Linked DNA regions of Homo sapiens. The protein of the gene in region 1 binds, or shares a complex with, the protein of each later gene. Each region holds a gene or a part of one and is shown in the gene's direction. Other genes may lie near its edges.

Evidence for each region.
Region 2: C9orf78 (region 1) and TTF2 share a complex: the UniProt entries of both Homo sapiens proteins name them as parts of the spliceosome.
Region 3: C9orf78 (region 1) and PPP1R8 share a complex: the UniProt entries of both Homo sapiens proteins name them as parts of the spliceosome.
Region 4: C9orf78 (region 1) and AKAP17A share a complex: the UniProt entries of both Homo sapiens proteins name them as parts of the spliceosome.

What each region holds. Positions count from the first base shown.
Region 1 is NC_000009.12:129,831,293-129,840,103, reverse strand, and holds the start of C9orf78 (splicing factor C9orf78), read left to right. Parts: upstream 1-4,828; 5' UTR 4,829-4,882; coding exon 4,883-4,965; intron 4,966-5,337; coding exon 5,338-5,397; intron 5,398-6,394; coding exon 6,395-6,446; intron 6,447-6,586; coding exon 6,587-6,657; intron 6,658-8,130; coding exon 8,131-8,208; intron 8,209-8,811. UniProt on the Homo sapiens protein: Plays a role in pre-mRNA splicing by promoting usage of the upstream 3'-splice site at alternative NAGNAG splice sites; these are sites featuring alternative acceptor motifs separated by only a few nucleotides. May also modulate exon inclusion events.
Region 2 is NC_000001.11:117,104,540-117,108,797, forward strand, and holds the end of TTF2 (transcription termination factor 2), read left to right. Parts: 3' UTR 1-2,914; downstream 2,915-4,258. UniProt on the Homo sapiens protein: DsDNA-dependent ATPase which acts as a transcription termination factor by coupling ATP hydrolysis with removal of RNA polymerase II from the DNA template. May contribute to mitotic transcription repression. May also be involved in pre-mRNA splicing.
Region 3 is NC_000001.11:27,825,479-27,834,577, forward strand, and holds the start of PPP1R8 (nuclear inhibitor of protein phosphatase 1), read left to right. Parts: upstream 1-5,303; 5' UTR 5,304-5,357; coding exon 5,358-5,413; exon of another isoform or gene 5,414-6,305; intron 6,306-7,277; coding exon 7,278-7,338; intron 7,339-8,922; exon of another isoform or gene 8,923-9,088; intron 9,089-9,099. UniProt on the Homo sapiens protein: Inhibitor subunit of the major nuclear protein phosphatase-1 (PP-1). It has RNA-binding activity but does not cleave RNA and may target PP-1 to RNA-associated substrates. May also be involved in pre-mRNA splicing.
Region 4 is NC_000023.11:1,594,548-1,603,177, forward strand, and holds the end of AKAP17A (A-kinase anchor protein 17A), read left to right. Parts: intron 1-836; coding exon 837-985; intron 986-4,644; coding exon 4,645-4,885; intron 4,886-5,590; exon of another isoform or gene 5,591-5,660; intron 5,661-6,111; coding exon 6,112-7,047; 3' UTR 7,048-7,973; downstream 7,974-8,630. UniProt on the Homo sapiens protein: Splice factor regulating alternative splice site selection for certain mRNA precursors. Mediates regulation of pre-mRNA splicing in a PKA-dependent manner.

The sequences.
Region 1 (8,811 bases):
CGTGTGCCCCGCCCTCCCGGCCCACCAGAGCCTCCTCTCTTGGGGCAGGAGAGCACAGGATGGGGGGAGGAAGGCCTGAGACTTTTGGCAAAGAGCCCACCATTGCTGGCCCCAGGAGACCTCCAAGATGCTTCAGGCTCATAAAGGCAGCTTTCCTTCCCTGGGCCTCCAGGGTGGGGGAAAGTGCCACTCCACCCACAGGGGCAAAGTGGAGGGGCAAGGCCTGAGGAAGGGCAGGGGAGGGACCAGCCAGCACAGCCTGTGGTCCTAGGTAGGCAGCACATCTGGACCTGGCTGCCTCTGGTGCCTGTTACTCATTGTTTTCCCAGAGGTTCTGGCTACATCCTCCTCCTCCCAGCGAGGAACCAGTCCCTCAGGATGGGGAGGGCGACACTTCTGGGCCTCCCACCCACACAACGATGCCCACAGCCCTGCCCACGCTGACCCCAACCACATTAGCCATCTCACACCCCCAGCCCCGCACAGGGTGTGTGCCCACCCCCTCCACAGTCCCCTCTGGCCCTCGCACACCCTTTCTCTCCCTCCTGCTGTCTTTACTCTACCTCCACACAACAGCATTCTCCCTAAGTCCCAGACACACCCACCCCTTCCCTTAACCCAGTCCTCACTCGGAGGCCACCATCCTCTGACTCTCGAAGCAGAGCCCTCAGGCCTCCCCATGCCTCCACACTTCCACAGTCTCTGCTGCCCACACACTTCTGTGTCTCCTCATCGCCCTTCCCCCTGCCCCACGGCCCTGAATATTGGAACTGACACTAACATCTTAGTCTGGTGTTCTCACATGTGACCTCACTGGACCCTCACAACCACCCTGGGAGGTGGCAAGGTTCCAAACTAAATCCATCTCCATCACTAACAATGGAGACACCGAGGCTCAGAGAAGTGGAATAACTGGCTAAGGTCACACAGCTACTGAGCTGCAGAACCAAAATTCGAACCCACGACTACCTGCCCTGAAGCCCATGCTCTGAACACTCAGCTCCACGATGTCACAAACAGCCCCGGCCAGCCTGGCATGGGGACGACCTTCACCTCCCCAAATCCAAACACGCGTACTCCAAGGAAGCTTCCTCACAAGAGCCTCTTCTGAGTCATTCTTCAGAGCATTTTTCTGCTCAGCTTAACTTCCTTCAGTCTAGGATATGACAGTATCTCCCTGCAGCTCAAAGCCTGCTACTACCCTTTGCTCTGAGCTCTGTCCGGAAGAGTCCCTTAATTGGAGAAGGCGTGGGTTTGGGGCTACCCTAGGCTGCAGCCAGTCACTGGCCCAGGTCATTAAAAGCCTCACACTCAGTGGTGAGTAAGCATGAGCAGAAACTCAGTCTCGAAGCTCAGACTAGAAACCTTAGAAAAAACTCACATTAGAGATGCGGAAACTAAGAACTAGGAAAATCATGATTTCTGGGGCCTGAAATCAGATCCTCTCTTTTCAGGCAGCATGATCTGCAGCTGCCTTCCCCCATGCAATCTCAGAGTTTAAAGGGGTTTAGAAACCATGCATCTTCCCCTTAAGGCACAACTCTGCTCTGTAAAAGCCATACTGGGTTGTTCTCCAAACCCAGTTTGAGCAGTCGTTGATGATAAAATCACCCTTTTCCCAGAGGGCAGCTCTAGTTGCTACAAACCTAAGTCTTTATAATCAATGGAAATTGGCTCTCCTGAAATTTCTATTTATTGAGCCATGACTGCTCACTGGAGCCAAAGAGCACTGCCACTTTCCTGCCTTTAAATATTTGTTGTTAGCCGGGCACAGTGGCTCACACCTGTAATCCCAGCACTTTGGGAGGCTGAGGCGGGCGGATCACTCAAGGTTAGGAATTTGAGACCAGCCTGGCCAACATGGTGAAACCCCGTCTCTACTAAAAATACATAAATTAGCCAGGTGTGGTGGTGGGCGCCTGTAATCCCAGCTACTCAGGAGTCTGAGGCAGGAGAATCACTTGAACCTGGGAGGCGGAGGTTGGAGTGAGCCAAGATCGCACCACTGCACTCCAGCCTAGGCAACTGAGTGAGACTCCGTCTCAAAAAAAAAAAAAAAAATTGTTGTCAACGTGCATGGCTTCTCCAAGTTTCCTCCTTCATGCTAATGAGAACCAGTTGGATACTGTTTGTCTTGCTAAGGTAAAAGGCTAAGAACAGCCTGGCTCTTTCATCACTGTTAAATACCCCACAATCAGGACTTGAGTTCAGGGTGTACACTCTAAATAAAAGCTTTTGTAAAATAAAGTTCAAGCTTACAGACCCCTAAAACCACCAGGCAGTGACTGGAACCCAAGGCCTATCATTCAATCCACTGCTTTATCTGTCATGTTTCCAACCAAATCCCAAACCAGAATGCGCTAATTTTAATTTGCAACTCAACCTTGCCACCCTCCCGGAGGTGATTCCCTTGTTTTGCTCTATTTGTTTCTTTTCCACAGCACTTACCATCTTCTAACACACTTTACATACTTTACTGTGAGAACATACACTCAACTAATCAGGGATCTTTTGTCTCTTTTGCTGACTTATTTCAAGCACTTAGAACAGTGCCTGCTCATATAGTAAATGCTAAGAATCTGTTGAATACATTGATCCAATAAATACATTTATTGGATGCCGACTATAGCTGGGCTGTGAACTGTATCACGTTGCTGGATCCCAAATCCAATCGGACATGAATGCTCCCTGAACCCTGAAACAAGCCAACATTTCATCTGGCTCCAGAAAGGAGCTAGGAAACCAACCAAAACCTAGGTTGAATCTGTACATTTTCTTAAAACAACTGAACTCCCAAACAAGACTAAGACCTTGGATTCATCTTTGAACTGCATAGAACCTGTATTTCTCGGAGGGTCCTTTTGAGAGACAGTCTCATCCTACGCTTAAAAGGGCCCAGTGAGACTTGGGCTGCAGTCTCTTGGCAAAGCCACTTACTGCCAGATTCATAGCTGCCACTTTTTCAGCATTCCTTTTGCTAAAGAGCACTCAATTAGATCTGCCACAGCACAGGTGGTGGTTATCACTGGGTCCTCTGGCCTCATGGAGCAAGGGTGGGAGCAGCTCATCTGTACCCTGGGACTTCAGCTGAGGAGGAGGGTCCAGAAATGCCCCTGGCCTTCTTGCCCTTTCCTTAGTAGTGTCCAGTACCCCCTGGTGGATGGGCTGCTTGATGGGCAGATTCAGAGCCACCTCTGAGAGCGTGAGAGCTGCAGACGTTGACCCCCTGGACTCCTGCAGCAATTCCCAAGGAGCCTCTCCATCATCTGACAGGGACTCCGTATCCAGTGAGTGCACGTGCATCTGGGTTTGGCTGAACCAGTCTGCAGAGGGCAAGACTTTGAGACTTTAATATATGGCTTTTGACCAAAGATAAAACGCTGGTGCAAGAAGTCCCGAGTCTACTATTTTTTCCAGCCCAAGGAAGAGAAGAACAATCTCAGTGGAGACTGTTCCAGAGAAAACGTAAGGCATTCTAGAAATGCTGCCCTGCTTCGGAATGGTCTTCCAGAAAGGGGAACCCCAGACAGCCCCCATCGGCCCCTCCCCCTAGCCAATGAGATGTAACAGCAGCTGCAGCAGCAGCAAACATCTACTGCACTCCTACCGTGCCAGGCCCTGTGCAAACCGTGCGGCAGAGACTGACCTGCAACCAATTCCTGTTCCACCTCCTAGCTGGGTAACTTGAGGCGTGCACTGCCCCTCGGAGACTCCGCATTCTCATTTGTAAAACGAAAAACAATCTACCTCAAAGGATTGCTGGGAGAATTCAATGAGATGATGCTTTGCCCAGGGCCTGCCACATAGTAACTGCTTAATAAGAGGTAGTTCTCAAAGTAAGGGATGACACTGAGAAAAGGAAAACTACTGTTACTTAAGGGGTTCTTAAAAGTCCTAGAAGCCATTATTTATGCATTTAGGTATTTCCTAAGCGTTTGCTGATACCAGTTTTTCAAATAAACTTTATCCTCACAGCATCTTCGGGGTGGAAGGGGCAGAGGGTAGAGCGACAGACCTGCCGAAGGAGGAAAACCAGACCCGTGAAGGTCCAGGGGGGTGGCCGGCAAGCACCGAGGAGGAGTCCCCCGGCTCAAACCCTCTTGCGTGGCTTCAAAACATCAGACGCGCCTCTCCTCGCGGAGAAGCTGGGGGCCATTATTTGTGAGGCAGTCGGCGCTGGGACTCTAAGTCAGCACCGCAGAGAAGTGGTCATCTTTTGTTCCGAAAGAAAAAAACGCACGTCAGGGCTCAGAGCCCGAGGAAAGAAAAGTCAGCGCCCGAGACGCGAGACGCCACGCGGATGCTTTCAACGCTAGGTCAGGCCCCGGCAGAAATGAGAGGGGGGCGGCCCCGGTTCTGGAGAAGCCACGAGCCCCCAGGGAGCTCAGAGTGGGGTGGTGCTGGGGCCCAGAGGCCCCCCTGGGCGCCGACCGGAGGAGGGGAGAGGGGCGGCGGCGGCCGGGGGGGTCCCGGGCTCCGCTCACCGGGCCGCTGCGTCTGGCGTACCTGGCGAAGCCAGGCCCTGTCAGCCCGGAGCCGGGCTGGGGTCGCCAATGCTCAGAGGCCCGGCCCACAGAAGCAGCCGGTGGCGGCCCGGAACTCACCTGCACTCGCAACTGCGCCGCCGCCGCCTGTCAGTCAAGCGCGCCCCCTCTGAGGCGACGCGCAGGGTTGTGGGGCCGTCTGGCGACGCCCCACCTCCTTCCCTCTGCCGTCCAATCGGAAGAGGCTGACGCCAGGAGAGGGGGCGTGGCCACGCGGACTGTGCGTGCCGGGGGCGGGGCCAGACGGGGCAGGCGCTCTGACCGCTCTGCCGCGCGCCGGAAGCAGCCTGGGCCGCTGCGCAGAGGCGCGGCGGCTGTACAACTCGGCCGTTGTCACCATGCCGGTCGTCCGGAAGATTTTCCGTCGCCGCCGGGGCGACTCGGAGTCAGAGGAAGATGAGCAGGACTCAGAGGAGGTTCGGTGCGTTTGGGGCGGGGCTCCCATAGGCTTGGTAAAGATAGACTTGTTTGGGGGACTCACCACCGGCTCGGCGCTTCGCTGACATTGTTAACTGTGAGCTCGGGTGGTGGTTCCTTCTGCGGACGCAGAAATTGAGGCTCAAGGGGTGAGGCCACCGCCCCAAGCTCGAACGGTTGAGAGAGATGCCTCCGGGATGCGCAGTGGCTCTGACTCCCGGTGGGTCTAGGCACAAGGTCGTCCTCTGGACCACTGTGCTGGTGGCTCAGTAGCTGGGCTGGGATGCCCTCGAAGGTGCCTTATTGGCTCTGTTAGCTTTGGATTCCGCGGGGAATCACTCAGCTTATGCATTGCTGCTTCTTCTTCTTTTTAAAGATTAAAACTGGAAGAGACCAGAGAGGTACAGAACTTGAGGAAGAGGCCCAACGGGGTGAGGTGGGTACCACGCGGGGAGGAGGAGGAGGCGGCGGGGACGACAGACACATCCGCGTCCGGGTCGCTGTCACAAATATCTCCTCAGACGTAGATTTTTCTCTTGACACACTGTACACCTTCCACTGCCCAACTTGGAGAACAGCGTTCTTTGCAAATGTTTAACCAGGACATGCCCTGAGCTGTGTCGTCTCGGGGTGTGCTCCAGAGATACAGAAACAGATCACTAACTCGCGTTTTTTATTAAAACCAATTAATTGTGAAATGCATATCGATCGTTAAGAGTTTGTATAATTTAGAAAAGTATAGTCAAGACGATAAAAAGCACCCATAATTCTCCCATCCGGAAATGATCAGTGTTAACATTTTTTTTCCTTGCAGAGCCACCCAAGAATGCACTGGTATTAATATTGAATACTCTTTCCAATCTGTTTTTTTTCGTCTCTCTCTCTCAGATTGTGAACAACTTTCTATGTACTTTTATTCCCTGTTCTTTTCAACTCATTATGACATTGTGGGCATTCACCCATATTGTGGAATATTTTTCAGAAAGCCTTAATGGCTGCATAATATTCCACCAGATGTGTGTATTGTAATTTGTTAACAAATCCCCTATTTTGGGACATGTAGGTGATTTTGTAAATTTTTACTATCAAATAAGGCTGCAGTGGATATTCTCTTAAATTTATCTTTAGCTGCACTTTCCATGATGAGAATATCTTAGAAATGAGATTTCCAGGCCAAGATAATGCCAAATGGCTTTACAGGAAAGTGGCAAAGTGTACCACTTCACCACCAGCGCACCCTTCTTCCAGCATCTGCGGTGCTCGTTGAGCCCTGTCTTATGCTTATAGGCTTTTCCAGCCGGCTTGCCTACCCACCCCTCAAATCCCACCCTTGCACTAATGTTGCAATCCGCATACCTGAGAGGGTTCCTCCTTATCTCTGAATTATGCCATTTCTCTCTCTCCCCCTCTCTTTTTTTTTTGGTTTTGCTCAGTGCTGTGGCCTTGCTGGTGGGAGAGAAGGTACAAGAGGAGACCACTCTAGTGGTAAGTTATGGGGTCTTCCCTGAGTAGTTATGGCAGCCCTCCCTGCAGTGCTCTTCAGTGAGTGAGCGTGCTTCACAAAAAAAAAAATTCCACTACCATGTATTTAGATGCTTCCTCTTAACTGTGTTTGCTTTCTGCAGGATGATCCCTTTCAGATGAAGACAGGTGGTATGGTGGATATGAAGAAACTGAAGGAAAGGGGCAAAGATAAGTAAGTTCAGGACAAGCTTAGATGCAAATTCACCTTTAGCGGCTGCCTGGGTCTAGGTTCCCTCAGAGAGCTGGGGCCTGTAGCAGCAGCATTAGTAGGACATCTTGAAGCAGGTTTTGTGCTTTGCAAAGGGTGTGTTATTTAAAAACAAAGAAAGCAAAAAGTCTTTAAAAGTTAACTTAGAGCCAAGTTGGTAGACTCCTTTTGTAAGAGTGTATTGTAGGCGTGATGACTCATGCCTATAATCCCAACACTTTGGGAGGCTGAGGTTAGCTTGAGTCCAGGAGTTTAAGACCAGCCTGGGCAACATAGTGAGACCCCTGTCTCTACAAAAAAAAAAAAAAGTGTGTATGTATACACACACACACACACACACACATATGTACACACATATACACATATGTATATACACACATGTATATACACATATACACACACACACACACACATATATATATATACACACACGCATATATATATGTGTGTGTATATATCTGGGTGTGGTGGCATGTGCCTGTAGTCCCAGCTATTCAGGAAATTAAAGTGGGAGAATCACTTGAGTCAGGGAGGTTGAGGCTAGAGTGAGCCGCGATCACACCACTGCACTCCAGCCTGGGTGACAGAGAAAGACCCTGTCTCAAAAAAATAAAATAAGTGAACCTATGGGGAAGTTTCATATAAAAACAATTAACAAAAATAATAAATTCAGGCCAGCTGCGGTGGCTCATGCCTGTAATGCCAGCACTTCAGGAGGCTGAGGCAGGCGGATTACCTGAGGTCAGGAGTTCGAGACCAGCCTGACCAACATGGTGAAACACTGTCGCTATTAAAAATACAAAAGTTAGCCGGGCATTGTGGTGGGCACCCGTAATCCCAGCTACTCAGGAGGGTGAGGCAGGAGAATTGCTTGAACTCGGGAGGCAGAGGTTGCAGTGAGCTGAGATTGCGCCACTGCACTTCAGCCTGGGTGACAGAGTGAGACTCCGTCTCAATAAATTAATAAATCAAACATTCAAATAATTCAAAAATTAAAAAAATAAAAGTTTACTGTGTACTTTTGTGACAACTATATAGCATTTACATTGTATTTGGTATTATAAGTAATCTAGAGATGATTTAAAGCAGATGGTAGTGTGTGTGTAGGTTAGATGCAGATATTATACTATTTTATGTAAGGGACTTCACTATCTGCAGATTTTGGTATCCTTGAGGGACACTAGAACCAATCCCCCATGGATACCTAAGGATAAGTGTATCCACTCAATCCTTGGAGGTATCACTAGCAGCCAACAGTTTGCTTGCATATATTTCTAGAGTTTCTTTTCTTTACATATACTACGGCATTTTTTTTTTTTTGCCAACTGTAAATAGGATATTATAAATGCTTATGTCTTTGTTTTCTTCTTAGAACATAAAACTCAGCCTCATTGAGTTGTGACTTGAAAGCTCTGCCTCATTGTTCTCTCCCTCCAGGATCAGTGAGGAGGAGGACCTGCACCTGGGGACATCGTTTTCTGCAGAAACCAACCGAAGGGATGAGGATGCAGACATGTAAGTGTCAGTCTGTTTGGCTGTGAGCAGTTGGGGCTGGACTCCAGTCAGAGTCCAAGATATTTAGTCAACAGATGACATTTCTAGAATTTTCTAGAAGATGTCAAAGTTGGCCCCTCTCTTTCTACTTCCCAGCTTAAGAACTTTGAAAACCTCTTAAAAGGTCTTTTCAGGCCGGGCACGGTAGCTCTCACCTGTAGTCCCAGCACTTTGGGAGGCCGAGGCAGGTGGATCATCTGAGGTGGGGAGTTCGAGACCAGACTGACCAACATGGAGAAACCCCGTCCCTACTGAAAATACAAAATTAGCTGGGTGTGGTAGTGGGCACCTGTAATCCCAGCTACTCGGGAGGCTGAGGCAGGAGAATTGCTTGAACCTGGGAGGCAGAGCTTGCGGCGAGCCAAGATCTCGCCATTGCACTCCAGCCTGGGCAACAAGAGTGAAACTCCGTCTCCAAAATATAAAAAATAAAAACTTGTTTTCAAAGGTGGTTTCATGACTAGTAATATTTCCCCAAAACATTGCAGGGATAAAACATGGGCTTGCCCACTTTTTATTTTGCCAACAAAGCTATTGGCAAACTATCATCTTTCTGTCTTCAAA
Region 2 (4,258 bases), on another chromosome or scaffold:
TATTTTAAAACAGCTTTTCTAATTTCTCATGTTATTGTACATAAGCAAAGCAACCTAGTTATGTCTTGGGTAGGTGTTCTTATAGCCGTGAGATGCTACTGACTTGAGGTGGATGCAGAAAAAAATGGAACCACTGCCTTAATGGGATGGAATATACTAAACATGCATTCTTAAATCCTAGTGCTGGGATGGATTACATGAATTACATTGTGGAGCTGCATATGTGTCTCCCCTCTTCCCTCCCTGGGGGTTAGGCTGGGTTTGTTTGGTTTTTTTTGTTTTGTCCTCATGAGGCTTAGCATCTAAGGGAGACAGGCATGAATTAACAGAAGTGGCATTCTGGTATCTGTCTCAGCCTCATATTCATTTTAGTGTAAATCAGTTTCGTCAAGTCTAGGTATGACAAGGTGGGTCTTTGCACCTTCTAGCGATGGGCAGCATCCCACAACACAGTGGTCTAATTGAGGTGCTGCACTATGAGTCCTGCCTGTGTTAACCAGCCTTCCTTCATGTCACAATACTGCTGCTGGATTTGCTTTTTACATCTGCCTATTGCACCTGACTTGGGCATGGATGATATGAGGTAATAAATGCTTTGAAAACCATGAAGGGCCACACAAGTGCTAGTGTTATTGCTGTGGGACAAGGTCTGGGAATATGAGAACCAGCAGCAGCATGGGTGCAGCTGAGAACCAGATGGTGAACATCTGTCTCCAAAGTGCAACATTCCTGAGCACCGGATTTATAAGGCATTTCTTACTCGACAGAATTGACTTCATGGAAGGTATGTAGTTTGACTTTGCCTTAGCCATGTTGATCAAATAGGAGTATTGTGCATGCCGCAGCTAGACAGAGTCCTGGGCCCTTTAAAAACCTTGTCAGTGACTCCCATTGCAGGCCCAGCGCAGTGGTTCACACCTGTAATCCCAGCATTTGGGAGGCTGAGGCAGGCAGATCACTTGAGGCCAAGAGTTCGAGACCAGACTGGCCAACATGGCAAAACCTCCTCTCTACTAAAAATACAAAAGTTAGCCAGGCGTGATGTTGGGTGCCTGTAATTGCAGCTACTCGGGAGGCTGAGGCAGGAGAATCACTTGAATCCAGGAGGCGGAGGTTACAGTGAGCTGAGATCATACCACTGCACTCCAGCCTGGGCCACAGAGAAAGAACGGTGATTCTTTCTAGCAGAAATTAGCAGAGTAAGTGTTTTTGGAACAATTGCTAATGAAAAGAAGGAAAAACAGAAAAAAAAAATTTTCTGTTTATGGGAGGTGACTTATTTCTCTATCAATCCTGTGAGTGATTTAGCATGGCAATTCATGAACACTGAGTTGTTTCCTTGCTCTGATTGTCTGTTGCTCAATGAAATGGCTTTTAGCAGGGCTCAAAGGTGAAGCCAGATTCTCCTGCACTAATAGGATAAGCATGGAGACACCAGTGTTCAGTGTGGCCTCTGGTTGTCTGAAATTTTGCTGTCAACTCTAATACCTTGAAAGAATTAGGTTTCCAAAGTGGGATATTGTGCTGCTGTTTGTGATATAGCATCTAGACTTAGGAAAGGGCAGGAACAATTTAAAAGCACATCTGTAGGCACAAAGAGAATTATAATAGAAATTCAGAATTCCTAGGCATATGACCTAGACTAAAATGTCTTCATAACTACAAATGAAATCAGGGTCATTTATAGTACAAACTACCACAGAAGTCAGTAGTTAGGGGATGGAGATAGATATGAAAAAAAAAAAAAGCAAACCCAGCCTAACTCCCAGGGAGGGAAGAGGGGCGACAGATATGCAGCTACACAATGTTTTTACTATCTTGAGTTCTTTTTACCCAGATTCCATAGCTAAATCCAGATGTATTAATAGGTAGAGACTACTTCAGAAAGGATGAGACTATTTTCTTGCTTAATTATCCACACAGTAATTCAGAAATGTATATTGAACACTTTTTATATGCCAGGCACTGCTGGGCACTGGAAATATAAAAGTAAGCAAAAATGAAAAACTATCCTGTCCTCCTGAGGCTTAGCATCTAAGGGAGACAGGCATTAGTCAACCCCGTGTGGCTGTGAATCAGCCATGATGCTGAGTGCTACAAGAGAGGACTGTGCGGCTGGGAGGGCTTATAACAGGATTTGACCTAGTTAGGGAAGATCTGAGGAAGTGATGAAAGAATGGAAATCAATATGTAAGAGCTCACAAGTCAGAGTGAGATGTTTCTTCCTATACTGCCTGCTTCTAATGAGCATCCACTTCATTGAACCACCTCTTCATTGAGCCAAACCTACCATACAGGGATACATTCTCTGGAGGAAAGTTGAGCAACTATTGCATTTGGGACATTAGAGTATGGGTGGGCTGACAGGTATGTGTATGTTTATTATCCAAGACAGCCAAGGTGTTTATCCTGTTACAACATCCCAGAGGACAGAGGCTCTTATTTGTGACTCTTTTTTCTTACCTGTAACACCAGAGGCATAACGTACATCATAATGCTGCATCTTGTTGACGCTTCAATGCTCACAATTCAAAGGTGATTTCTGAAGCACTTTGTTACACTGGGGACAGCTCCTAAATCCTCCCACTCTTTTTTTGCCTCACCTTGGAGTCTTGGGCTCTGTTGATCACTGACTCTGCCAGGTCTTTCAGCAGGCAAGACAGCTCAGTTAAATTGAGTTTGGACTCCACTGTAGTGCATGCATGAGACAGCACCCCCAATCCCCAACACCCACACACAAACTTTAAATATTTGTAACAGAATTGTTACCATTAATATTGCTTAAAGGCTAACACATTAGCCAGAACCTAGATGTCTTCTGGAAATTTTTTATTGCAATGTTACTTCATCTACATAAAGTTGTCCAATCACTGAAACCTCCAACTGAAATAAATGGTAAGCTTTTTGTTCTCAATTCTGAAATCAGATTCATTAAAAGGCACATGGGGATAGATGATATAATACAACAGGCTTCTTCATGGGAAGCAGTTCCCTAGATGTATGAGGTAATTGGAAAATTCAAGGCTGGTCTCTCAGGTGCATATAATTTATCCAACAGACTCGAGATAAGGCTGATTTTTTTTCCAAGTGGTATTTGTTTAAATGACAAATACTGAGGTTCGGGAGAAGGGAAGTCTGGCTTATAAAAACAGATACCAAGGAGATCCAAACTAAAAATTCTACCAATTAGATCTTTATTCACTGATCATAATATTAAGTCTCTACTATGTGCCAGGAACTGTCCTACATCGGGACAGTATGGTAGTTTAAAAATATCCCTGCCCTCATAGAGCTTACAATCTAATATGAGAGGACAGACAACAAACAGAATATATACATGTTGGCCTGTAATCCCAGCACTTCGGGAGGCTGAGATGGCCAGGAGTTTGAGACCAGCCTGGGCAACATGGCAAAACCCCATCTCTACAAAAAATGCAAAAAATTCACCAGGCATGGGGTCGGGGGGGTGGTGTGCCTATGGTTCCACCTACTCCAGGGGCTGAGGTGGGAGAATCACTTGAACCTCGGGAGGCAGAGGCTGCAGTGAGCCGAGATTGTGCCACTGCACTCCAGCCTGGGTAACAGAGAGAGAGAGACCCTGTCTCCAAAAAAAAAAACCACAAAACAAAACATATATATATGTGAGATGGTGATGAAACTGGGCAACTCTGGGGTGGGAAGTTGCTATTTTGTACAGGGTAGTTAGCTAATAGGGTGATTTTTGATACTGGAGCGAGAACTTGAGAGGAACATGAATCATGAAGGTATCTGTGAAAAAAGCATTTCAGATGGAGGGGCAGTGATTCTAAAGGCCCCAAGACAGTGCTTGGAGTTTGAGGAGCACCAGGCAGACCAGTTTGGCTGGAATAGGGTGATGGAGGCGGATGGGTGGGCAGTAAGAGCAGGGATCCAGATCATGCGGGGTCTTACATGCTGATGTAAAGACTCACTTTTCTGAGATGTGCGGCCAATGGACAGTGGTGAGCAGAAGAGTGACATGAGCTGACATATTTTAAAAGATTTCTCTGATATTGGGTGGTCAAAAAAGATAAAGATTGGGAATTGGCCATTGGATTCTGTAACCTGGAGTTTACTGGTAACCTTGACAAGAGCTATTCCGTGGAGTCTTGAGGATGACAGACTGACTGGATTAGATCTTACAGAGAGTGGGAGGGAAACTAGAGATACCAAACAACAATTCTTTTGAGGTCCTTTTAAAGAGGAGCAGAAAAGGGGAAAGGTTGCTAAAGGGGGATGT
Region 3 (9,099 bases), on another chromosome or scaffold:
CAGTAAGCCAAGATCATGCCACTGCACTCTAGGTCTGGGCAACAGAGCAAGACTCTTGTCTCGGGGGAAAAAAGAAAAAGTAACTTAACCTTTAGGCCCCAAGTTTTCTTGGTAGCTCTTTTCCAGCTACGAAATTTTCTGATTATAAGGACCCACGGCAGTTTAGTGTGAACATACAAATTGTATTTTTACCTCTATCTTCCTTTCATTTTCTCATCTCCTTTTCTTTTTTTTTTTTTTTTTTTTTTTTTTTTTGAGATGGAGTCTCGCTCTGTTGCCCAAGCTGGAGTGCAGTGGCGTGACTCGGCTCACTGCAAGCTCCACCTCCTGGGTTCACGCCATTCTCCTGCCTCAGCCTCCCGAGTAGCTGGGACTACAGGCGTCCGCCACCATGCCCAGCTAATTTTTTGTATTTTTAGTAGAGGCAGGGTTTCACCGTGTTTGTTAGGATGGTCTTGATCTCCTGGCCTCGTGATCCACCTGCCTCGGCTTCCCAAAGTGCTGGGATTACAGGCGTGAGCCATCATCCCCTTTTCTACTTCCTTTATGAAATATCCTAGCAGTACTGGGTAGATCTAGCATTCTCTCTTCCAATGAGTTATTAATAAAACTATGGGCTGGGCGCAGTGGCTCACGGCTATAATCCCAGCACTTTGAGAGGCCGAGGCGGGTGGATCACTTGAGGCCAGGAGTTCAAGACCAGCCTGGACAACATGGTGAAACTCTGCCTCTACTAAAATTATAAAAATTAGCCAGGCATGGTGGCGCACGCCTGTAATCTCAGCTACTCAGGAGGCTGAGGCATGAGCTTTGCTTGAACCCAGGAGGTGGGGGGTTGCATTGAGCCAAGATAGCACCACTGCACTCCAGCCTGGGCAACAGAGGCTCTGTCTCAAAAAAAAAAAAAAAAAAAAAAAGAAAAAAGAAAAATAAAAAACTATGATACTGTATAAGGTATAAGGTAAAGTAGAAATGTTACTGTGGCTACTTAATCTGGGAATGTTCCAGAATAAGAACTTGCTAGATGCTAGACAGATACTCCCAGGGGAGTGTGTGTGTGTGTGTGTGTGTGTGTGTGTGTGTGTGTGTGTTTTGCTAAGGGGTAGGGATGGGAGGGTTCACCCACCGCAGTGCAAAATATCAAAATGAAATTACTGTTCAGTCTATGCAAAGTAAAACATTCTGAGCCACCTCTATTAAGTGTTTTTGTTTTTTTTTTTTCTATTCAGAGACTGTCCTCAGTCATGGGAACTCAGCTTTTGCTTTTGGTCACTAATTGCAGACCAGAGCCCACCTCAGATCTCAGTCCATCCTGTTCCCTAAGTCTGGGAATCACCTGCTGCTTCCCCGCTTTTCAAAGCATAGTTAGGGCCGGGCACAGTGACTCATGCCTGTAATCCTAGCACTTTGGGAGACAGAGGCGGGTGGATCACCTGAGGTCAGGAGTTCGAGACCAGCCTGGCCAAGGTGGTGAAACCCTGTCTCTACTAACAATACAAAAACTAGGCCGGATATGGTGGTTCGTGCCTGTAATCCCAGCATAATCCTAGCACTTTGGGAGGCTGAGGCAGGTGGATCATCTGAGGTCAGGAGTTTGAGACCAGCCTGGCCAACATGATGAAACCCTGTCTCTACTAAAAATAGAAAAATTAGCTGGGCATGGTAGCGGGCACCTGGAATCCGAGTTACTCGGGAGGCTGAGGCAGGAGAATCGCTTAAACCCGAGAGGTGGAGGTTGCAGTGAGACAAGTTTGTGTCATTGCACTCCAGCCTGGGCGACAAGAGCGAAACTCCATCTCAGAAAGAAAAAAATGATAAAATAATAAGAATACAAAAATCAGTCAGGTGTGGTGGTGTGTGCCTGTAATCCCAGCTACTCGGGAGGCTGAGGCAGGAGAATCACTTGAACCTGGCGGGTGGAGGTTGCAGTAAGCTGAAATCACACCATTGCACTCCAGCCTGGGAGACAAAAGCAAGACTTTTTCTGGCAGGGCACAGTGGCTCACACCTGTAATCCCAGCACTTTGGGAAGCTGAGGCAGGCGGATCACCTGAAGTCGGGAGTTCGAGACCAGCCTCACCAACATGGTGCAACCCCGTGTATGGTGGCACATGCCTGTAATCCCAGCTACTTGGGAAGGTGAGACAGGAGAATTGCTTGGACCTGGGAGGTGGAGGCTGCAGTGAGCCGAAATCCTGCCACTGCCCTCCAGCCTAGGTGACAGAATAAGATTCGTCTCAAAACATAATAATTTAAAAACTTTTTAAAGTTTTCTGACCTCAATATTCTTCTAATGTCTTTAGATCTTATTCTAAGGAAATCTATCAAAGGCCAACATACTAATCTCTTTATTGAGATACCAAAATCCAAAGGCAGCTAGTACATCAGTCTATTTTAAAAGGTTAAGGACCTAGATTGCTGCCCTCTAGTTTGCTGGTCTATACTGACATCATTGGTGCCCAAACAAAGAGCATTTTGCTTTATGAGGGCCTAGGTAAGCATAAGGTGCCACGTGTGAATATCTACTGTGCTAGAAACAGAACATGGCCAAGGAGTAAAGAATTAGAAAGGTAAGATGTAGCTTTTAGGTTTCCTGGGTCTATAGTCAGCAATAGAAGGATCACACAAGCTGAGAAGTTGAAATACAAAGTTGCCATAAGATACTATCAGGTCACTGCTAACTGCAAATGGCTTCAACACCATGTTATGCCTAAAAGGAGCATAGAACCTCAAAGGCCCACACAATTTCTGTAGGTAAAAGTATCTTCTTCTTTTCTGTTAGACTCAAAAACTTTTGGGACTAATTCCTTCTAAAAAATCATGCCCTGTATTCAGAAGAGAGGGACATAGGATTATTTCTGTTTTCTTGAAACCAAGTTTAGAATTTGAATTTTTCCAATCAGCCTAGTCTTACTTTGGAATCACAAGGCTGAAAAGGAGGATATTAACAGGCCATTTGATAAGTGATCTGATTAGTCGCCATCCTTGCTGGATAAGTTTATTGTGCTTTAAAGGCCAGAGGAAAAGGTGTTTCTCCAGTCTACCTAAGAGTTGATAATCTTAAAATCCAAGTTAATGTTATATTGCAGTTACTTTTTTGATCTTCTCACTCCTTCTAAGTTATATTGCAGTTAAATCTTGAGGGCTGGAGACTTCATCAAGGGCAAAAATCTTTTGAATAGGCTGATTTTCTACAGAACCAGTAGCATGGAAGCAAGAAAAGAACTACTTTCATCATAGATTCCTCAACTTGCTGAGCAGTGCCTCTTTCTGGATGAACAGGAACTTAGCAATTGATTTATTTAAAAAAGGAAAAACTGGTCAGATAATCCTCCCAACGCGTCTACAAAAGTGAAAAAGAGGGGCATCAGTTGCATGCTAATAATAAATATAATTATACCAACATCAAAGTGTAAGAGAGAATAGTGACTCATGAGCATGGCCTTCGGCATCATATAGGTTTAGGTTTTTGATCCCACTCCACTTGTTCTAGGGTGAAGCTGGGTAACTCAATCTCTCTAAGCCTCTCCTCTGGAATTATAATAATACCTAACTCAAGAGTATTGTCAGGATTAAGTGAGATGATCCATATAAAATACATACTTGCCCAGGTAACTGCTGAACAGACAATGCCATTAAAACCAGAGGCCCTCCCGTCCAGGAGGGAGGTGGGGGGGGGGTCAGCCCCCGCCCGGCCAGCCGCCCCATCCAGGAGGTGAGGGGCGCCTCTGCCCGGCCGCCCCTACTGGGAAGTGAGGAGCCCCTCTGCCCGGCCACCACCCCATCTGGGAGGTGTACCCAACAGCTCATTGAGAACGGGCCATGATGACAATGGCGGTTTTGTGGAATAGAAAAGGGGGAAAGGTGGGGAAAAGATTGAGAAATCGGATGGTTGCTGTGTCTGTGTACAAAGAAGTAGACATGGGAGACTTTTCATTTTGTTCTGTACTAAGAAAAATTCTTCTGCCTTGGGATCCTGTTGATCTATGACCTTACCCCCAACCCTGTGCTCTCTCCACTCAGGGTTAAATGGATAAAGGGCAGTGCAAGATGTGCTTTGTTAAACAGATGCTTGAAGGCAGCATGCTCATTAAGAGTCATCACCACTCCCTAATCTCAAGTACCCAGGGACACAAACACTGCGGAAGGCCACAGGGTCCTCTGCCTAGGAAAACCAGAGACCTTTGTTCACTTGTTTATCTGCTGACCTTCCCTCCACTATTGTCCTATGACCCTGCCAAATCCCCCTCTGCGAGAAACACCCAAGAATGATCAATAAAAAAATAAAAAATAAAAAACCAGAGGCCCTGCTAATGGTCTCTTAAAACCAGCTGGTGATCTAGGGCAAGCGAGCAATCCTTATGCTTCCTTGCCCTATAACCAAAAGCAAAAAATCCTTTTTAAAAAAATTAACCATTTGAGCCAAGCACAGTGATGATTTGGACCCCTGCTTTCTGACTGGACCTGCTCCTGGCTCCTGCTTGTCCAGAGTTTTCATAAACAGACTAGGTGACCCCTAATGCAGATTCCCTGACAATCTACAGGCCTAAACGTGAATTAGAAAAAAGTGAGTAGGGTGCCACTTTTTGGAGAAGGGCTGAAGAGAAACAATAATCACTCCAATCTCCGAGTTTTGCCCTTTAGCTTCTCCGCTTTGAGGGCAAAAGGCTGACGGTCTTAACCTAAACTCTGGAGGAGGATGTAGTCCCCAGATTTTTTCTTTCTTTACTTTTTTTTTTTTTTTTTTTGAGACGGAGTCTCGCTCTGTTGCCCAGGCTGGAGTGCAATGGCGCGATCTCGGCTCACTGCAACCTCTGCCTCCCGAGTGCAAGCGATTCTCCTGCCTTAGCCTCCCAAGTAGCTGGGATTACAGGCATGTGCCACTACACTCGACTAATTTTTGTATTTTTAGTAGAGACGGGGTTTCACCATGTTGGTCAGGCTGGTCTCAAACTCCCGACCTCAAGTGATCCGCCCGCCTCAGCCTCCGAAAGTGCTGGGATTACAGACGTGAGCCATCGCGCACGGCTTAGTCCCAAGATTTTAGAGCCAAGAAGCGTTTGCAGGAGGACGTAGGGAAAGACTGACTCCCCTCCCTACAAAGCCCCTTTTCCTTTGACACCTCCTGGCCAAGGAAAACCCTAACCACTGGAGACTTCCAGAGACGGCCAACTCGCACAAACGCTGAAAAAAAAAAAATCCCAAAAGCTCCTCTGTCCCCACTAGAAGCACCGCCCCCCGTACGGGCGTGCGTGAGCGTGCGTACGCACAGGCTGCTGGGATGCCGCTTTTCCCTTCTCGGTCTTCCAGTTTCCCGGCGTGCTTAGGGCGCGCCAAATGGGAGGGGGAGACGCAAGATGGCGGCAGCCGCGAACTCCGGCTCTAGCCTCCCGCTGTTCGACTGCCCAACCTGGTGAGTGGCGGGGCGGCCAGGGCTAGAGTGGCCCGGCCGGAGCTAGCCTGGGCTGGAAGGGCGGCTCTTTTTTTACTTTTCTGCTGCGAGCCGAACGGCTCAGAAACCCCGGAATGGTTGAGGAAAAACTGTTTGCTGCACCGGGCCGGGCGACGTGTTGAAGAACCGAGAGCCTGGAGCCCAGGCCCAGGAACTGAAGAAACCCGGGGTTGGGGGCTCAAAGGCGCTCACTTAGGCAGCCCCTTTGAGCGATTAGCCAGTCGCCGGAGCGCTTCGAGGCCTTGGCCCGAACTTACGCCCAACTCTTGACTGAGTGCCTGGTGCTCTCGTGGAGCATCGCATCTGGCCCCTTCCTGTACGTCCCGAGCGCGCTCGAGCCAGCCCCGGCCCCAACCCTACCTCCAAGCCCCGCATCCCTCTGTGGTTGCTGCATCCCTCGTGCGGCACTTGTCTGTCTGCCACAGAGAATACGAGGGTAGGTTAGCGCCATCCCTGCCCTCAGGGAGCTCCCAGTCTGTGGCACTAGTAGGCATTAGTAATGGTTGGCATGAACCCTTTTTATCCCTTCGAAAGTTCTTGGGAATAATGAAATAATTTAATTTGGTCTTTGAGTAGGGTACAAGTTGAATAAATATGAATTACCTTACAAGGAAACGCTTCTGAATTAAGAGTTTTTTTCTGCTGTAGCTCATCGCAGTGTATTGTTTGTTGCTTGTCTCTGTCTCCCGTTGTATTGCCATCCTCAAGGGCAAAGACTGCATCTTTGTATTCCCAGCTCCTAGGCCTGAGTCAGGCACATAGTAGGAATTCAGAAAGTATGTTTTGGATGTAACATTCCTCCTTTTTCCTGGACAAAATGGCCTTTTGTCCGGTGCATTGTCCTTTCCATAGAGGAGGGGTTGGGGCAGGATTGTGAGATGACTGTGTTGAATCTTCAGTTAGCTAGACAAGGATACGTTTTTTCATGTGCAAATCTAAAGGTTCTAGTGAGGTGGTTCTTTTTTCTAACTTCAAATTAGCAAACCCAAAAAGCAAGCAAATGTGTGGCTATTTTCTGGATCGCTTTGCACTTTTGTAGTAGTTGCTTCAGTCTACAAATTCTGTATCCATTTTGATCCCTCGCTGTATTGATTTCAAATTTGGGCCGAGATAGCAAACATAGTTAGAAAGCACTGTTTTTGAGATCACCTACCCTTTCCTTAGGATCTGGTAGGTACCAGGCACCGTTAGGTGCTTTGACATATGAGTCTCCCTTGAATGGTATGGCTGTAGGATATAGAGGAAACGTCCCCTAATCATGCTGTTGTAGAAAGACCTGTTTCAAGGGTAACATATTCATTTGGTACCTGGTTTCATGGGGCATGATTTTGAATTGCCCTAGTTCCCTAATTATGCACCTCTGATTTGGTTTCAGAGCTCAGGACAGTACTCTTTGCTTACTCTGTGATGAGACTAATCTTGATGAGCCCCAAACAGCAACTAATTTATTCGGTCTTTATATGATATTGGAGTAGGGGTGGATTTCAGATTCAAACTCCAGGTGACTAGACCACCCCAGCTATCGTACTTGCACTCTCTATGCAGTTCTTTCTCTGAGGTGAAGATCCAGTGTTAAAATATAGGTTTCTTGGTGCTGCTCTAAATACAGATCTACTAAAATCTGTTGCAGAGCAATTGAATCACTAGGGAAGTAAGTGTCAAACGTAGAATGGAGCTGTAATAACAGTGAAGTGGATGACATTTCTGCTTGAACATGAACTAATTATAGGCTGGTAGGAGAGCTGCAATGTTGAATGGGACAATGGTTGTAAATAGCATTTATAAACCCATCCTGAAAATGCTTTTTTCTATTTTTATTTTTCAGGGCAGGTAAGCCCCCTCCCGGTTTACATCTGGATGTAGTCAAAGGAGACAAACTAATTGAGGTATGGAAATACATGTCTTACTTTTTTGGCTGCCACACTAAAGATTTTTGCCAGTGACTCACTTTTCCACCCCCTCTCCTGTGCTTTGTTTTCCAGCAATGCTACTTTCTTTCATCCTGATTTTTTTTTTCTGTTAAAAGCACATGGTGACATCACACATTTAAAGCTTATGTCTACCACAGACACTCAATTTTTTGTGACTTCTCTCAAATGAAGGGTTTTAATAGGTCATGGGTCCTGTGGGCCCCAGTCAAACTGGAAGCCCTGTTAGCTTGGTTAATTCCCTCTCCCTGAGTACATGGAGTTGTGTAAACCGTGCAAGGTATGCAGTAACTGAAGAAAGTGAATGATATATATTGAGTTTAACTTCTAAGTTAATTTTAAGACATTCAGGCCCAACTCCTTATAAGAAGTATGGTAAACTAAGACATTTACTCAAAAAGATAATGGAATTGTGGTGAAATTCATTAATTGATTCTTTCAAAACATGTATTGAGTGTTTACTATGTGCCAGTTACTGTGCTTGGCATACAGATTGCAGCAGTAAGCAAAACCAACATAATTTCTGTCCTCAAGTCATCCAGTGGGAGAGACAGAATCACACCAAAAAATTACATAATTATATTTGAATTAAGTACTATAAAAGTTTAGCAGAATTCCAGCTTTTATACAAGCCTCTAGAGAGAACACCACATAGGAGTTCAAGAGAACATGAGTTTTTATTAGCTATTAGTTTGCGTAAATTTTTTATAATCCTTACGGTATTATTTATTTACCAAGAGATGGATATTAAGCCCACTATGACCATGTAGCTGTGAGTCTCCCATATTAGACCAATTTTATATTTGCTTGCTCAGCTAGAATTTAGGTTCAAGGCCCCATTATTGAATGCAGTTTTTTCATTGTGGTTTTTTGGTATTTAATAAAAATGTTGCAGTTCCACGGTTGCTAGATTGAAAAGCTATCTGAGATCTTTTGAAGGTTACTCTGTAAATATATTGTTGTCACTTTTGAGATGTTGTAGAGATAACCAGGTATTTTGCAAAGTATTAAGGCATGCACGAGTTTTAATGATTTCTCCTGTTATGAATACATCATGGACTCAGCCAGTCACAGAGAGCCCCTTTGTCATGGGTTCTTCTCTCTTAAAGATTTAAAACCTCAAGATTATTCAAAGAAATAATTTAGCTAAAATATCTGTAAAACCTTTTTTGCTATAGATTGTTCCACAGTTACAAAATATTTGTTGCTGAATAGCACAAAGCTTGAAGACATATAGGGATCTGTTTTATTACTAGAATTTAGCAAATCTTTAGTTTGCAACAGGAAGAAACAGACAGGGTTGCCTAGTCTTAATGATAACATCACATTCCTTTGTGGAATAATTGGTATTACATTTTCAAAACACTCTAACTTGCCAGACACTCCTCTGATCATTGGTGTCTATTAGCTGATAACGTTCTCTTTCGATGTTGTTAAGTGTGCTGAGTTGCCACAAAGTTGTCAAGTTACAATCCTTAGACATCACTGTATTCTTGAGAGGCGTAGACCTGAGATGTGCTTATTTTTAGATTTAAACTTGATCAGCACTTGATACTAACCGAGCTGTCTATATCCTAGCCTTGTGTCAAAGGCTTGTGATGTGTTGTGATAGCTGGGTTTAAGAAGTGCAATATTAAAACAAAAGCCATGAGTCTTTTAAGCCCAGTGTGTAAAGATACACTCTGAGTTATAACTCAGAGGCACAACTGGATAGCAGTA
Region 4 (8,630 bases), on another chromosome or scaffold:
GAATGCACCTTGAAACCAGGGCTGAACGTTCCCTTTAGCCTCATGTGCTTTTTTATTTTTTTTATTTTTTTTATTTTTATTTTTTTTTCGAGGCAGAGTCTCGATCTGTTTCCTGGACTGGAGTGCAGTGGCGCAATCTTTGCTCAGTGCATCCTCCGCCTCCTGGGTTCGAGCGATTCTTCTGCCTCAGCCTCCCGAGTAGCTGGGACTACAGGCGCGTGCCATCACACCTGGCTAATTTTTGTATTTTTAGTAGAAACAGGGTTTTGCCGTATTGGCCAGGCTGGTCTCGAACTCCTGACCTCATGAACTGCCTGCCTCGCCCTCCCAAAGTGCTGGGATTACAGGCGTGAGCCACTGCGCTCAGCCTAGCCTCGTGTTTTGACCGTGTTGGCTTCACAGTGACAAATGAGCCAGCCTCCTGGAGGGGGTTTTGTGGCCTTAAGATGTGCCCTGTGGGTGTGGGCAGGCGGCCTGCTCAGTGACTGTGGCCACAGGGAATGGTGGAGCCGGGTAGCGGAAGGGGAGCTGTGTCTCGCAGCGGTGGCGTGTCACTTGTGTTCAGTAAGTGGCGAGGGCTAGTTGGTGTTCCTCGCTGAGTCGTAACTCCGTGGGATGAGCTAAGTCTTGAGCCACTGATGGTGACTTGAAGGGATTGGTTTGGCTTCTGGGCTCCACTGTCTGGGTCTGCACCGGACATGAGTGGTGAGCGGTGAGCGGTGAGCGGGCGCTCAGGCTCTGAGGCCACTCGGCCCTACGGCCCAGGAGAGGGCGCCTGGCCGTGTGTCTGGGGGGTTTTGGGGGAAGGCCATCTGACACTGTTTTTGCTTTTAAAGGTTTCTTTTGATTCGACCAAACACCTGAGTGATGCCTCAATTAAGAAGCGGCAGCTGGAGAGGCAGAAGCTTCAGGAACTGGAGCAGCAAAGAGAAGAACAAAAGCGCAGAGAGAAGGAAGCGGAGGAGAGGCAGCGAGCGGAGGAAAGGTACCTTCTGCGGGAGCGGGCCCTCGGCGCTGGTGTCCGGCACCTGGGAGTGTGCGCAGACCCGTGTGCGTGTGTCTGCATGTATTCCTGTGCGTGTGTGTGTGCATGCATGCTTGTGAGCTTGTGTGTGTACCTGTGTGCATGGACGCACGTGTGCCTGTGAACCGGTGTGTGTACTTTGTATGTCCCTATGTGCGCCCGAGTGTGTGCCTGAGCATCTGTGTGCACGTGTGCCTGTGTGTGCGTGCATGTGTGTGAGCTCGTGTGTGTACCTGTGTGTGTATGTGCACGTGTGCCCACATGTGTGTGCTTCTGTATCGGCACATAGCACACATGTGCCTGTGTGCATGCGTGTGTGCCTGTGAACCCGTGTGTGTACTTGTGTGTGCACGTATGGGTGTGTGTGCAGGCCTGTGGGTGCTCAGCTGTGCACGTGAGGACCTGCGTGAGTGGCTGTTTGAGACGCAGCAGAATATGAATGTTTCTCTTTTTCTTGTCACACGTCGTGGTCTGACACGATCTCTGCCGGCTCCCAGGACCGCGCCTTGCCCGAAGAGCCACCTCTTCTCCCTCCACATGCTGTTCACACCTCCCGCTGAAACAAGCAGAATGCCTTGGCTGTTTGCAAGTTTGCATTTAGGTTGAGGCTACATTTACAAAATGAAGTAGAGGGTTGATGGTGATGGCCAGATTTAAAAAAAAAAAAAAAAACAAAAAACCAATGATAGGACAAAAACCCGGTTTCACATAAGAGGCCTTTAAAGCAATTGCCTGGGTCGTTCACTGTGGTTGGGGTACCAGAGACAACCTCAGGTCACTCTTTGTAGCCCCTTTTATCTTCTTAGCATTGCAGGAGGGAACCAACAACTTTCTGTGAATCCCCTGAGGCGGAATCCTCCTCCTCCTCCTCCTCCTCCATCCCTCCCACCCTCCTAGTGAGGTGGATTCCTCCTCCTCCTCCTCCATCCCTCCCACCCTCCTAGTGAGGCGGAATCCTCCTCTTCCTCCTCCATCCCTCCCACCCTCCTAGTGAGGTGGATTCCTCCTCCTCCTCCTCCATCCCTCCCACCCTCCTAGTGAGGTGGATTCCTCCTCCTCCTCCTCCATCCCTCCCACCCTCCTAGTGAGGTGGATTCCTCCTCCTCCTCCTCCATCCCTCCCACCCTCCTAGTGAGGTGGATTCCTCCTCCTCCTTCTCCGTCCCTCCCACCCTCCTAGTGAGGTGGATTCCTCCTCCTCCTCCTCTTCCTCCTCCATCCCTCCCGCTGTGCCCTCCTAGTGAGGCGGATTCGTCCTCTTCCTCCTCCATCCCTCCTGCCGTGTCCTCCTAGTGAGGTGGATTCCTCCTCCTCCTTCTCCGTCCCTCCCACCCTCCTAGTGAGGCGGAATCCTCCTCCTCCTACTCCTCTTCGTCCTCCGTCCCTCCCGCTGTGTCCTCTGACGACTTTGGTGCGTCCTGCACGTCTGTTGCGCTTCATGTCGCCGATATCAAGTCTGGGACGTGTTGGACTTGGCTGGGGGGCTCCTGGACAGCCTCTGGTGGGACCGAGTTGGTCCGTTTTGTTTCCATTTCTCACTGCTTTATGTGACGCTGGTGCCAGCGTGTTGATGTGTGTGGCTGGTGATGTTTGCACGAGAGTCCCGGCACTGAACTCCTGGGAGCAGGTCCATCCTGCCCGTGGTGTTCTTTACGTAGCCCCCGTTGCCTCCCCAGGGGAGAGTCGGGTTGTCAGCCTCTGAATCTGAACCCCGAGGGCTCCTTAGGTGAGGCAGGTGCAGTGTGTAAGCGAGTGGCCGTGAATGTGCTGGGGGGGCCCATGTCAGCCGTCAGGATTCCCAGGACCTAAGGCAGGCAGCACAGAGAGGCAGACGCCCTGGGAGGGAGGGACATGCTGCTGCGTCGCCATCCTGGGAGGCGGTCCCTGGGAGGGGCGGTTCGGATGTGGGGTTGAGTCCGGGTCCCCTGTGTCAGCCACTGTCAGGCCGAGCAGGACAGCTGGGGTGGGAGACAGTCCTGGGGCGTTACAGGGACTCTTCCAGGCTGCAGACACAGCCCAGGCCTGGCTGAATGTGCCTGTCCACATTCTGGAAGTGTGGAGTGGGACTCAGAGCCTCGGACCTCTCGGTGTCGCAGGAGTGTCCCCGCAACATTTCAGAAAGCAGCTTGCGGGTGCGGAGAAGAAGCTGCATCCTTGATCTTTCCCTGAGGAGAGATGGACGTTGGAGTAGTGGAGTGTGTCTCTGCAGGGAAGGGACCCCGTCTGCCTGGCCAGACCACAGAGGGATTGGGGGAAGCGGGGCCGGGCCATGAGGTTCTCGAGAGCAGGATGGGGTGTCCAGAGCCCCGGGGAGGGGCAGGCCTGTTGTCTGGGGGAGCTGGCCAGGAGGGCTCCACACGCAGGGCCGTACTTGTCCCCGCTGTCCCCCACTGTCCTTCCTCAGAGGCTGAGCATGAGGGGAGGCCCAGGGCAGCCTCCTGCATTTCTTTCTGGTGGGTGGAGATGAGGCATGTTTGCTTGTTCAGCCCTCACGTGTAACTTTGAGCTTGATGAGAGCTGTCCTCTGAAAGCTGCCCAGCCTCGAGGCGTCGCTGTGGGTCCCGCCTAAGGGCGTGCTGTGTGCTGGGCTGCCCTGAGCCGCCCTCCGAGCTCGTGGGGCGGTGACAGCTCACAGGGCGGTTAAACCTTCAGCACATGAAACTGCCTGAGGACCTGCATGCCCCGCCCGGAGACCGTGTGGATCACTGTCTGGGCGTCGGCACCTGGCCCGGCCCCCTTCTTGGGGTGGCAGAGCGTGGGATGCCTTTTCTCCCGGCCTGCTCCTCCTTGTCCCCGTGTCTCCTCTCCCCTTGGTGTCTGCGTGGGTCTGTGTCACCCCGGCGGGCTTTGTGGCCTCACTAGGCGGTTGGCGGCGCCCACCCGGGCTTCAGAAGTCTCCGCCTCCGTGTCGTGTTCCATAGGAACAGCTGCGACTTGTTCCCATGTCCGGTGTTGGTTGAAATGCATTTGAGAGCTGCGGGGCGGGGGAGGCTGAGCTAGGGAACTCCCCACTGTCTCTTGTGGACTCTCTCTGGGGACCGCGCCCCTCCCCGGCCGCATTCATCCTCACTTCCTGGACACCCCTCTCCACAGGAAAAGTGCAAGGAGCTGAGTGGCGTGGCTGTGGTTGGATTTGTTTAGAGAGAGGTCCCCCCGTGCCAGTGCTGTGTGGTGCCCTCACAGGAGTCCTGCACAACAAGGAGTCACCCAGCGCGGTTCCTGGTGGGCAGAACCGGCGTCCTCCGCGCCGCTGTGCATCCCGGGGCCTTGTTGGGCCTGCTGGGGTTCCTCTTTCACCCGTCCGTCTGCCCATCCGTCTTTCCCCTGACTGGGGGCGTGGCTTTTGATGTGGTCGGTCCAGTGGTCGTTTTCTTCGTGGTTTCAGGGTTGGGTCACACTTAGCAGGACGGTGTGTTGGAAGGTCACGGAGGTCCTCGCCCGGCTCACTCCTTCCACCTCTCGGGCTGCTTTGAGTCAACCGAGGTCCACCTTGGGATAAAGAGTTAAATGCTTAATCGTTGGACCGTGGCCTGTTCCGCCGTGTTTGGAAAGCCGCTTGTATGGTGTGTGGTGTGTTGGCTGCGGCGCTCTCTGTGACCACCCCCGGTGTGTTCCACACAGGAAACAAAAGGAGCTGGAAGAGCTGGAGCGAGAGAGGAAAAGAGAAGAGAAGCTTCGCAAGAGGGAGCAGAAGCAGAGGGACCGTGAGCTGCGCCGGAATCAGAAGAAGCTGGAGAAGCTGCAGGCGGAGGAGCAGAAGCAGCTGCAGGAGAAGATCAAGCTGGAGGAGCGCAAGCTGCTGCTGGCCCAGAGGAACCTGCAGTCCATCCGGCTCATCGCCGAGCTGCTCAGCAGAGCCAAGGTACCCGGGGGCTCCCTCTGCAGCCGCCAGCCGCGCCCGGGCTGCCCTCAGTGCCCTCCCCTGAAATGCGGGCGGCGTCACGGCGCCGTTTCCCCGCCGGCTGCAGCTGTAGCTACGAAACCAGCTTTAATGCCGAGGATGACGGCTCCTTCCCGGGAGGGTGTAGCGCTCGTCTGTCGTTCCCGATGATTTCAGAGCTGTGACGGTTTCCTTTTGCAAAGCTGGTGCATTCAGGTTCCCCGAGCAGGCTGGCAGCCTCCCGGGGGCCAGGGCAGAGGCTCTCTGTTTCCTTTGGGTCGGGGCAGTGGCAGAGAGTGCAGGGGGCCGCTCCCTCTGGCCCGCGCCTCTGTGTGTGGTCAGCTGGCCTGGCTGTGACCTCACCAGTGGCCCAGAGCAGAGGGGCAAGGTGGGCTGGGGGGAGGGCTGAGCGCACAGAGGGGGCCTGCCGTGGGCCCGGGTCCCTCCTCCGCAGCGTGAACCTGACAGGTCTCACCAGCGCCGGTACTGACGACCCCCTCAGCACCAAGAGCCTCCCTGCTCCTCCTGCAGGCGCGACTGGTAACTCCCATGAGCCCGGGGCCAGGGCCCACAGACAGACAGACCTCCCCAGGACAGACGTCCCCGGCACGCTCCTTGTCCTCAGGAGGGCTGCGTCCCCCTGGAGTCCAACGCGGGGCGACCCCATAACCTGTTGTCTGATTACAGTTGTGATAAGTCCCCGGGAAGGAGCATGACAAGAGGCTGAGACATGTGGCAGCCCAGTCCTTACCTCATGGTGAATATTGAAGACACTAACCCAGGCTAGGCCAGGCTCGCCCCGCAGCTACGGCGGTGGCATGCGTCTGCGGCGTCATCTCAGCTCCCTGTTGCTGGCGGCCGCTTGTGACCTAACCGCAGGCGCCTGTGTGCAACGTGGTGGGGCTCCCGGCAGGGCTCGGCTCTGCCCAAGAGGCCCGCCCTGGGGCTGCGCCGAGCCGCTTTGCCAAGGGGTTTCCTTCTCACTCAGACGCATGATGGCCCCAGGTGTGGCCGCGGGAGCCGAGGGATGGACGGGCTGGACCTGGCTCGCCGTAGGAGACGCCCCCCACCCCTGGGCTGGAGTCCAGCCAGGCCGCTGATCCTGCATCCCCAGACCATGGGGCCTCCAAACACCTTCCCAGCTCCTGTCCCACGTGTCCGGCCAGGCTCAGGAACCGGGCTCAGCTGCACTTTCCTCTTCCCCGCAGGCTGTGAAGCTACGGGAACAGGAGCAGAAGGAGGAGAAGCTGAGGCTCCAGCAGCAGGAGGAGCGGCGGCGGCTGCAGGAGGCCGAGCTGCGGCGCGTGGAGGAGGAGAAGGAGCGCGCGCTGGGCCTGCAGCGGAAAGAGCGGGAGCTGCGCGAGCGGCTGCTGAGCATCCTGCTGAGCAAGAAGCCGGACGACAGCCACACACACGACGAGCTGGGCGTGGCACACGCCGACCTGCTGCAGCCCGTCCTGGACATCCTGCAGACCGTGTCGTCCGGCTGTGTGAGCGCCACCACGCTGCACCCCCTCGGGGGCCAGCCCCCGGCCGGTGCCCCCAAGGAGAGCCCGGCCCACCCAGAGGCCGACGGCGCTCCCAAAAGCGTGAACGGGAGCGTGGCCGAGGAGGCCCCATGCAAGGAGGTTCAGAGCTCCTGTCGTGTGGTCCCCGAGGATGGCTCTCCAGAGAAGAGGTGCCCGGGCGGCGTCCTCTCCTGCATTCCTGACAACAACCAACAGCCCAAGGGCATCCCTGCCTGCGAGCAGAATGTCTCCAGAAAGGACACCCGGTCAGAACAGGACAAGTGCAACCGGGAGCCCAGCAAGGGCCGGGGCCGGGCCACCGGAGACGGGCTTGCTGACCGGCACAAGCGGGAGAGGAGCCGGGCCAGGCGGGCCAGCAGCAGGGAGGACGGGAGGCCACGCAAGGAGCGGCGGCCCCACAAGAAGCACGCCTACAAGGATGACAGCCCCCGCCGGCGCAGCACGAGCCCGGACCACACCCGGTCCCGGAGGTCCCACAGCAAAGACAGGCACCGGAGGGAGCGGAGCCGGGAGCGGAGGGGCAGCGCCAGCAGGAAGCACAGCCGCCACCGCCGCCGAAGCGAGCGGTCGCGCTCCCGGTCCCCGAGCAGGCACCGCAGTACCTGGAACAGGTAATGACGGGCACGGCCTCCCCACGGCCTGTCCGGGAAAGACCAGGACCTGCTCGAGCCTCCTGGCCGCTCCTTGGCCGCTCTCCGTCCACCCCTGCAAAGCCAAGACCCTTCTGCAGCCACGAATGTCCACGGAGCCCGCCGGCAGGAAGGAAGACACCATGCTTTAGAGATCCATCTTTCTCCACTCACCGCAGCGTACTTGGCACTTCAGTTTCAAACACGTAGTCCTTTAAAACTTGATCCGATAGCTTTAATGCGGCCGGTCCTCTCTCAGTCAGGAAAATTGCACAGACCGACAGTCGTGAGGATGGCAGAGCTGCTGCATTCCCCCACACGGGGATTTCTGTGTCTGCTTGGCGACCTCCCTGCGTGCACGGCCTAGGAGGTGCACGGGCCACCATAGTCACACTGGCACTGAAAAGAAAGCGTTGCCCTGGTGATTCTTTCCCCCCCGTTTGTAATGTTAACTGATCAGGAAGTGCAGTTTGGGTGGGATGCCGAATCGTCGTGCTGACATTGAGTCACGGATGAGGAAGGTACAAGTCCTTTAAGATCAAAACTCAAACGGGCCGTTCTTTCTAAGGTGTCGGTATGTGGGGAGTGGTACAAAATGGTCTGATGCTCCTTCAAAAACATTCACTTTTTACAACGTCAAGGAATTAAGCATAAAAAAGATTGGTTAAAAGCTTTGGTTTCTAGTAAAGGTTAGTGTGTGTGGTTTTTTTAAGAAGCTGTTTTGCTAAATTATTTTTACTTGGAATGTTTCAAACAGATTTCAGGCTGCAAACTTGTTTTATAATCGTTTGCTTCTCCAAGTGAAGCTCAGAAATACCTAAAAATAGCTGTAACGTTCGCGTTAGGAAAGATGGTGTTTATTCCAGTTTGCATTTTTATGGTGAAATAAAATCCTTTTCCAATGAACTAAAATTTTTCACGCTTACGATTTTTGTGTTTTTATGTTCCTTGGACTGCATTATTCAGCTGAGGCTAGCCAAGTGTGCGTGAAACCAGTAGAGATCGTTCGCTTTTCCTAGAACTGCTGATTCAACGATGACATATCCCACAGCTCTCCCGCAGCTGTACGGTAGTAACCTTCTGAGAGGAGAATCCTGGCTCTTAAGAGGCATCTGATTTGTTTGCTGAGAACATAAACTTAGCCAAATTCCCAAAACCAATCTTTTTTAAAGCCAAGGAGCTGTTTTTAAAGCAAATTTAAAAGACGGTCGTTCTTTTTTTTTTTTTGAGCCGGAGTCTCGCTCTGTGACCCAGGCTGGAGTGCAGTGGCACGATCTCAGCTCACTGCGAGCTCCGCCTCCCGGGTTCACACCATTCTCCTGCCTCGGCCTCCCGAGTAGCTGGGACTATAGGCGCCCGCCACCGTGCCCAGCCAATTTTTTTGTATTTTTTAGTAGAGACAGGGTTTCACGGTGTTAGCCAGGATGGTCTCGATCTCCTGACCTCGTTATCCGCCTGCCTTGGCCTCCCAAAGTGTTGGGATTACAGGCGTGAGCCACCGCGCCCGGCCAAAGACGGTTCTTTTCCCCGCCTAAAGTAGTGGTCACAGGTAGCGTAGGCACTGCCTGC